Linked DNA regions of Homo sapiens. The protein of the gene in region 1 interacts with the protein of each later gene in a biochemical or structural test. Each region holds a gene or a part of one and is shown on either strand. Other genes may lie near its edges.

Region 1 (3,817 bases):
TTATAATCCTGGTTCTGGCATTCACAAGCTGTGTGACCTTGAACAGATTGCTTTCCCTCTCTGGGCCTCCATTTCCTCATCTGTACGATGTAAAGACTGAACCAAATGATGGCTAAGGGTATTTCTGGATCTGAGAACCTTAAAACCTATGTTGGATTCAGGGAGAGGAGGCTGGGAGAGGAGGCGGTATGGATAGTCCTGGTAGTTTTCTGAGAGGCAGTGGCCAGAGTCTCCCGGTCAGAACATCTGCTCTGGTTGATCAGCCCAGCAGGTACTGCGAGAGAGGGTCCTCAGAGAGTCAGCCACACAGAAGGACAGATGCAGCCCCTCACCCAGAGACTCGAAGGCCTGGACAGAGGAGAGAAGATAGAGAACACCTTTTGCCCCCTGCCTCATAAAGCCAAGCGCGACATGGGCAAGGACCAGGCAGGCAGCGGGCCTGCTGGCAGGCAGACGGGTCTTGCCAAACTCCCACTTACTTCCCAGAAGCTCCAGGGCCCCCTGGGAGTGGCTCCACCCAGCTGGCACCCCTCCAAGTTGGGCGCCCACGTCAGCAGGTCCTCACACTCCCTTGCCCTTTCACCCAGTGACAATGGGACAGGCAATGGGGTGGGGGGCACCCTAAGCCGGATACTTGGAGAAGCGTCTGACTGCCTGAGCATGGCCCTCCTGTTACCACCTCTGCTGCAACTGGCTCAGAGCAACGCCTGAGGCTGATGCCCAAGTGAAATGCTCTCCTCCCAAGGCCTCCCGGCCTGGTCGCCCTTCCTGGGTGATGCATTGGCTCCCACGTACCGGAATGAATGCTGAGTCAGAAAGGCCCAGTGGCCTTGGCCAACACCCAAGGCCTCTCTGGACTTCATGACACCAACTGTAATATGAAGATAATCATAATAGTGACCTTGTAAGAAGTTTTTGAGGATTAAGTTAAAAATACATCTGAAGGGTAAGAACTTATTATTCTTAAGCCTCAGCCTGCGGTAGGAAGTGAGATTGAGCCCTGGGGGCATGTGACCCCAAAGAGGAGGCACATCTAGGCCAGGGCTGCCTGGACAGGGCAGTGGCTGTGGTGGAGCATGAGGTGCTGCCTGGGATAAGAGCCTCTGGTTAAGCCTGGATGTGTCATTTGCTTTGAAAGTCACTAAGTTCAACAGGATGAAGGGCAGAGGAAGGGGTTGTCACTTGCAGCTGAAGCTGGGTCCTGAGGAGCTAGGTCTTTGTGGGCTGGGGTAGGAGAGGCGAAGGAGGGCCACGAGGCAGTGTGGGAAGCACTGTGGAGAGGAGGGGCCGGCTTGGCTGGGTGTGGGCTAAGGACGGGTCTCTGGGGTGGCCGCAGGGTATAGCAAAAGAAGGGCAAGGAAGGGATGTGTGGCTCCTTGAAGCTGGGCGCTTTGTGAGCACAGTCACAGTGGGCAGTGAGGCTGCCAGACAGGGGGCACTGGCTTTTCCTAAGAGACGGTGGGCCCAGGGAAGTCACGGCCTATGACAAACACAGGACAAGGGAGCAGTGGTGGCAGAGAGGGGGTGAGGGCCCCTGATGGTGGTATGTGTCTGCCTGACCCCACAGAGATGGCCCTGCCCCCAGGCCCATGCTCTCAGGTCACCCTTCCCCTGTGAGATCCCACGACCACTGCTTCCATCTCGCAAGCTACAGCTTCCAAAGAGCTCTAACGCCCAGTCTCTCCTGTGCTCCTGCAGAGGGCTCTGGCGGGCAGCGAGGGTGGGGGTTAATAGCTCTAGCTCAATCTTCCAGAGTGTAGGAAAGACAAGTGAGCCCAGAGAGGGGTAGGGATTTGTCCAAGGTCACACAGCTATCACGTGGCCAAGCTGGGGCTATGTCCATGCTCCCTACTTCCTGTTGAGCCCCATCCATGGTGCCATGCCCTCCCCTCTCCACCAAGTAGTGCCGGCCTGGAGGACAGGGAAGGACGGGATGAGAAGCAGCTCTGGCTCAGGGCCTGCCCAGTTGTCGAGGTGAGTTGTGGTCTGGCTGCCATGGCCCAGCTGGCGGGCACAATCTGTTCTCACCCTACTGGAGCACAGACGTCCTAAGCACAGTGGCTCTACAGCTCAGCTGTCCAGGTCCCTAGCAAATGGTGACACAGTTACTGGCCCGACGCTGTGGAGGGGGTCAGGGGAGCTGGTTCTAAGGGCAGCCCCAAGCAGCTGTCCCCAGAGCTCCTTGAGCTTTAAGATCCAAATGGCCCTGGGTTGACAGAGGTGCCAGCTTTACTGGAACTGAGCTGCCCTCAAGCCTGGCTGCTCTCTTGGAAACATGACAGTAATCTGGCACTTCACTCATTATTAATCACAGTGAGCCATTATTGAGCACTTGATAGGTACCAGGCTCTGGGCTAAGTGCATTACACACATGATCTTACTTATTCCTCCCCAAAGTCCTGTGAGGCAAGTGTATTATTAACCCCATTTTATAGATGTGGAAACTAAGGCTCAGAGAAATCATGCATACACACACACACACACACACACACAGAGAGAGAGAGAGAGAGAGAGAGAGAGAGAGAGAGACAGTAAGTCCAGGACAGAGTCACACAGTATCCTGCCTTGCAATTTAGTTATCAAACATATTCTGGGCCTCCATAGGTATGGCTGGCAATGTGGAGGTAGAAGCTAGAGAGGAAAGTGACAAGACCCATCAGTGCCACCCCTTCCCCCCAAAGCTAGTGTTTAGCTCTATGTAGTTGGGGATCCTAGAGGACAGGGGGTGGTGGTAATATTGGCCCTGGAATTACAAGCTGAACATTTTCAGTGCCACTCAAATAAGGCAGAGATCATAAGCTGTGAGGAATCCAGGAGGACTGCATGGAAGAAGAAACATTTGGTTAAGATTTGATAAGGCTTAGAATGGAAGAAAATGCCAGCGTCATTTTATTATCATAATTATGTTAATAAAAGTAGTAAATATATCAACAATAAAAGAAGCAGGCCAGCACCAGTAAACACACTTTACAAATGAAGAAACATGTTCAGAGAGTGGGAGTAATTTGCCCAAGGTCACACAGCCACTAGGGCCCTGTCACTAGGGATGAGTTCCCATCCAGGGTCATTTTCCCTCCAGTTAGCCGGAAGAATTCTCAACTTAGGCTTTGGAATGGCTGGTGCAGAGGGAACATTTGCCTCTGCCCTGATCTTGGCTCAGGGTGGGCCAGGGTGGGGGCGGGGTACAGAGAGATTATCTGGCTGATGATAGTAACACACCTGGAAAGACACCGAGGGCTCCTGCTTTGCCAAGGGTAACACCACCTCCCCATGAGGACAGATCCTACATCAGGTCAAGTACAGAGGAAGACCCCAAGGCCTCCAGTTGGAGGCTGATGGGGACCCTGGAACACTCATTCATCCTGCTCTTGCAGGGAGGGGCAGGCAGTCTCCTTTCTTCTGTGGCACAGTGGGCCAGCTGCCCCAGGGAGACTGAAGGGCCCTTGTTGCCAAGCAACCCCACATAAGCTTTGGCTGGCAGCGGGGAATCCACCAAGAAGCCAGCCCTGCCTCAGTCTCCCTTCCTGTACACTGGATCACAGGATGTCAGAAACCATTCAGGGCAACCACCTCACCTTGTAGTCAAGGAAACTGAGGCATGGAGAGGACAAGGACCACGCCCGCAGCCCAGGACACTGAACTAGAATCCAGCTCTCCCAGCTGACCTGTGCCCTCACACTCTCCCTGTGCCTCTAGACAAGTTCTCAGCAGCACCCAGGCCACCCCTTCTCTAGGCATACAAAACAGTCCCGTCATTGAGGTCAAACGGACTCGAGTTCAAACACGGTTGTTCTGCTCCCAAGCCGTGTGACCTTGG
Region 2 (3,817 bases), on another chromosome or scaffold:
GTGCATGCCAGCAGTCCCAGCTACTCGGGTGGCTGAGGAGAATCGCTTGAACCCAGGAGGCAGAGGTTGCAGTGAGCCGAGGTTGCGTCACTGAACTCCAGCCTGGGTGACAGAATGAGACTCCGTCTCCAAACAAATAATCATTTTCAGAGCCTTAAATTGTGATACCATGTATGTAGTAATGAAAGAATTTGTTTTGAAAATACTGGCATTGGCTAGGTGCAGTGGGTCACGCCTGTAAGTCCCAGCACTTTGGGAGGCCAAGGCGGGCAGATCACCTGAGTTTAGGAGTTCAAGACCAGCCTGGCCAAAAATGGCAAAATCCCATCTCTACTAAAAATACAAAAGTTAGCTGTGCATGGTGGCACGTGCCTGTAATCCCAGCTACCTGGGAGGCTAAGGCAGGAGAATCACTTGAACCCTGGAGGTGGAGGTTGCAGTGAACCGAGATCCCACCACTGTACTTCAGCCTGGGTGACAGAGTGAGACTCTGTCTCAAACAAACAGACAAAGCACACAAAAAAACCTGACATTACTACTACTGTTTAAAGTAGCATTTCATGTTTTTATAGCTCAGGATATTAGTGTATTTTTATACTGTGTGGCACAGATTGATATATCAATATTTAAACCAACAGTACATAAAATTAACTCTTCTTGTTTAGTAAATAACTTTTCAATTATTTTATCCAAAAATTACTTATTAAAATTACCGCACTCTGTAAATGGTGATTATTGCAGTGGGGAACTGACTGTGGTGAGTTGATAAGAGATATTCACTGATTGGCATATGGATTTGATAAATTGATAAACTGAAGTCACTAGGATTTTTGTCTATTTCAGAAAAACTTTAAATGAACTCAGTTATGGTTCAGATGAATTCAGTTATGGTTTCAAGTTATGTTGCTGTACATCTTGTTATACACCCCTTTCTCTTGCAACCTATACCATATACAAAATTAGTGCCTGATATTTTTATATAATGCTTTATACTTTTTAAGGTGCCTTCACATGTATCAGGTCTTTTGTTCCTCATAACAGGCCCACTAAAAGAGTTGGTAGTGTTCTTTCTTTTTTTTTTTAGAGACAGGGGTCTCAGTTGGTTGCCCAGGCTGGAATGTAATGGCACAGTCACGGCTCACTGCATCCTGGAACTCTGGGCTCAAGTGATCCTCCCACCTCAGCCTCCTGAGTAGCTGGGACTACAGGTGCACACCACCACACCCAGCCAATTTTTTCTTCTTTTGTAGAGATGAAGTCTTACTATGTTAGAGACTGATTTGCCAGGATAATCTTGAACTCTTGGGATCCTAGGCGTGAGTCACCACATCCAGCCCTGGGTAGTGTTCTTATTGCCCAGTAGAGACCGAAGCTCTCAGGTTAAGTGATTTAACCAAGGTCATGCCACTTGTAAGTAAGTAGCAGAGCTAGTGCTAGATAGAGCCCAAGTCTGACTGCCCTTAGTTTATGTTCTTCCTGTGCAGTGTGTCCTAGTAACAAAGTTAGCAGATTACAGAAGATGTGATATAATCTTTCCCATCCTTCAGTTATCTACTGCTTGATGGGTGCAGCCAAATAGATCATTTAAAATCATATCTTTTGCTTCAGGATTGGTTGAAACAAACATCATACTTACTCTTTCCTGTACTATGGAAAAAACAGGTTTAGTCAAAACCAGAGTTGCTTACAGGACAGTGAAGAGAGGACTTCCTGTATTACAGGATACAGTTGGATTAAGGTCATTAAAACAAACCAGACAATTACTGAGAGAAGTCAAGGACATATATATAGTAAGCATAAACTTTTTTTTTGAGATGGAGTCTCACTCTGTTGCCCACGCTGGAGTCCAGTGGCGTGATCTCGGCCCACTGCAACCTCTGCCTTTTGGTTTCAAGCGATCCTCCTGCCTCAGCCTCCCCAGTAGCTGGGATTACAAATGCCTGCCACCACGCCTGGCTAATTTTTGTATTTTTAGTAGAGATGGGGTTTCACTGTGTTGGTCAGGCTGGTCTCGAACTCCTGACCTCGTGAATTGCCCTCCTCGGCCTCCCAGAGTGCTGGGATTACAGGTGTGAGCCACTGCACCCGGCTAGTAAGCATAAACTTCTAAAGAAATAGTTATTAAGCAGTCTGTATGTGCCAGGCAGGTGAATTAGGCTAATGGAAGAAAACAAAAGCTCTAGAGCCAGATAGATGTGAGCTGGAGTTCTGGCTCTCCACCATCTATTTGCATGTTGCTCTGGGCATATCACTTGCCTTCCCTGACCCTCCATTTCTTCACCCATAAGAAGGGGAAAGTTGTTGTTATGAACATACCTACTCTGGGACTGTTGGGAAGATTACTGGACCAAAATAATATAAAGGCCTTAGCAAAGTACTTAACCCTAGAGGTGTTTGATATATCATCAATATTGTTGATGGCATTTGGAATGAGATGTTTCACATTTAGTATGCTGCTTTCCAGATGGGTTGGAAGAAGATTCACACACGTTTCCTAGGCCCCGAAACCTGACATTTGCTCTTTCTTTTTCTCTTGCTCTTGTTCTAGGGAATGACAATGGATAAAAGTGAGCTGGTACAGAAAGCCAAACTCGCTGAGCAGGCTGAGCGATATGATGATATGGCTGCAGCCATGAAGGCAGTCACAGAACAGGGGCATGAACTCTCCAACGAAGAGAGAAATCTGCTCTCTGTTGCCTACAAGAATGTGGTAGGCGCCCGCCGCTCTTCCTGGCGTGTCATCTCCAGCATTGAGCAGAAAACAGAGAGGAATGAGAAGAAGCAGCAGATGGGCAAAGAGTACCGTGAGAAGATAGAGGCAGAACTGCAGGACATCTGCAATGATGTTCTGGTAAGAGGCCAGTGCTTCTGTTTTGAACAGTGGTTTCTAAATAGTATTAATTTAATGTATAAATGCAGACTCTCAAAACAGCTTATGAGAGAGAGGTGTCTGAATATACTGGAAAGCTGCCAGGTATTTACAACTAATTTTTAAGCATATGATATAATTTGTGTCACCTATTGCCTGATCAGAGGTTGTACATCACTTCTGAGATACTTTCCTCTCCTATCAAAAAGACCTGTGAAAAACAGTGACATTTTTTCAGCCTCCCTCCATCTTTTAAAATTGAGGCCAGATAGACAGGATTTTAATAGATACAGCTACAGATAGGCTATTGTGTATATTAGTCAGAGTAGTGATGTCATCGCCAGTAGGGGAGGGAGATGAAAAAGCTGAGCTGCCTTTCAGCCTCTCCCCAGTCATGCCTTCACACTGTAAAGTCCTGCTTTGGTCTGAAAGTTAGGCACATCCATCAAGTTCGGCATGCATTCCAGAGCCAAATTCAAAGTGTTTTGGGCATTCTCCTCTCCTGTATTTTACATAAACCCTTAGTCAGATGATTGATTCCCTCTGGCCGCCACTTGGGATTGAATGGGAGGGGTACGTACTCCAAAACAAATCATAATCATATTGTCTTTCCCGCACATCCTGAGCCATTGGGAACTTTCTTTTTCTTCCAGGTGAAATCAGGTAAAAATGAACTCAGCGAGGGCTGCTTTGAAGGGAAAAGGAATTCACACTTGGGGACCTACCACCTTCCCTGCTGGCTGCCTTTCTAAATTACTGCCCATGACTCCTTTCTTTTGAAAACCAGTATAAAGCTTGTCAGCCATCAGGCAGCACCCCTTATCCCTAACCTATTAGGAGTTACACACTGTCTGTCTACAAAGAATATTAAAACGACTGCCGCCCCCTGCATCTTCTCACTTTGGTTGATTAAATCCCCTTATAACTAAGCTTTGCATTGAGCTTCTC

The links.
Region 2: the proteins of KCNK3 (region 1) and YWHAB form a complex in vitro, tested with the Homo sapiens proteins (one study listed by BioGRID and IntAct).

The regions. Positions count from the first base shown.
Region 1 is NC_000002.12:26,723,615-26,727,431, forward strand, and holds part of KCNK3 (potassium channel subfamily K member 3), read left to right. Parts: exon of another isoform or gene 1-946; intron 947-3,817. UniProt on the Homo sapiens protein: K(+) channel that conducts voltage-dependent outward rectifying currents upon membrane depolarization. Voltage sensing is coupled to K(+) electrochemical gradient in an 'ion flux gating' mode where outward but not inward ion flow opens the gate.
Region 2 is NC_000020.11:44,898,983-44,902,799, forward strand, and holds part of YWHAB (14-3-3 protein beta/alpha), read left to right. Parts: intron 1-2,548; 5' UTR 2,549-2,551; coding exon 2,552-2,851; intron 2,852-3,817. UniProt on the Homo sapiens protein: Adapter protein implicated in the regulation of a large spectrum of both general and specialized signaling pathways. Binds to a large number of partners, usually by recognition of a phosphoserine or phosphothreonine motif.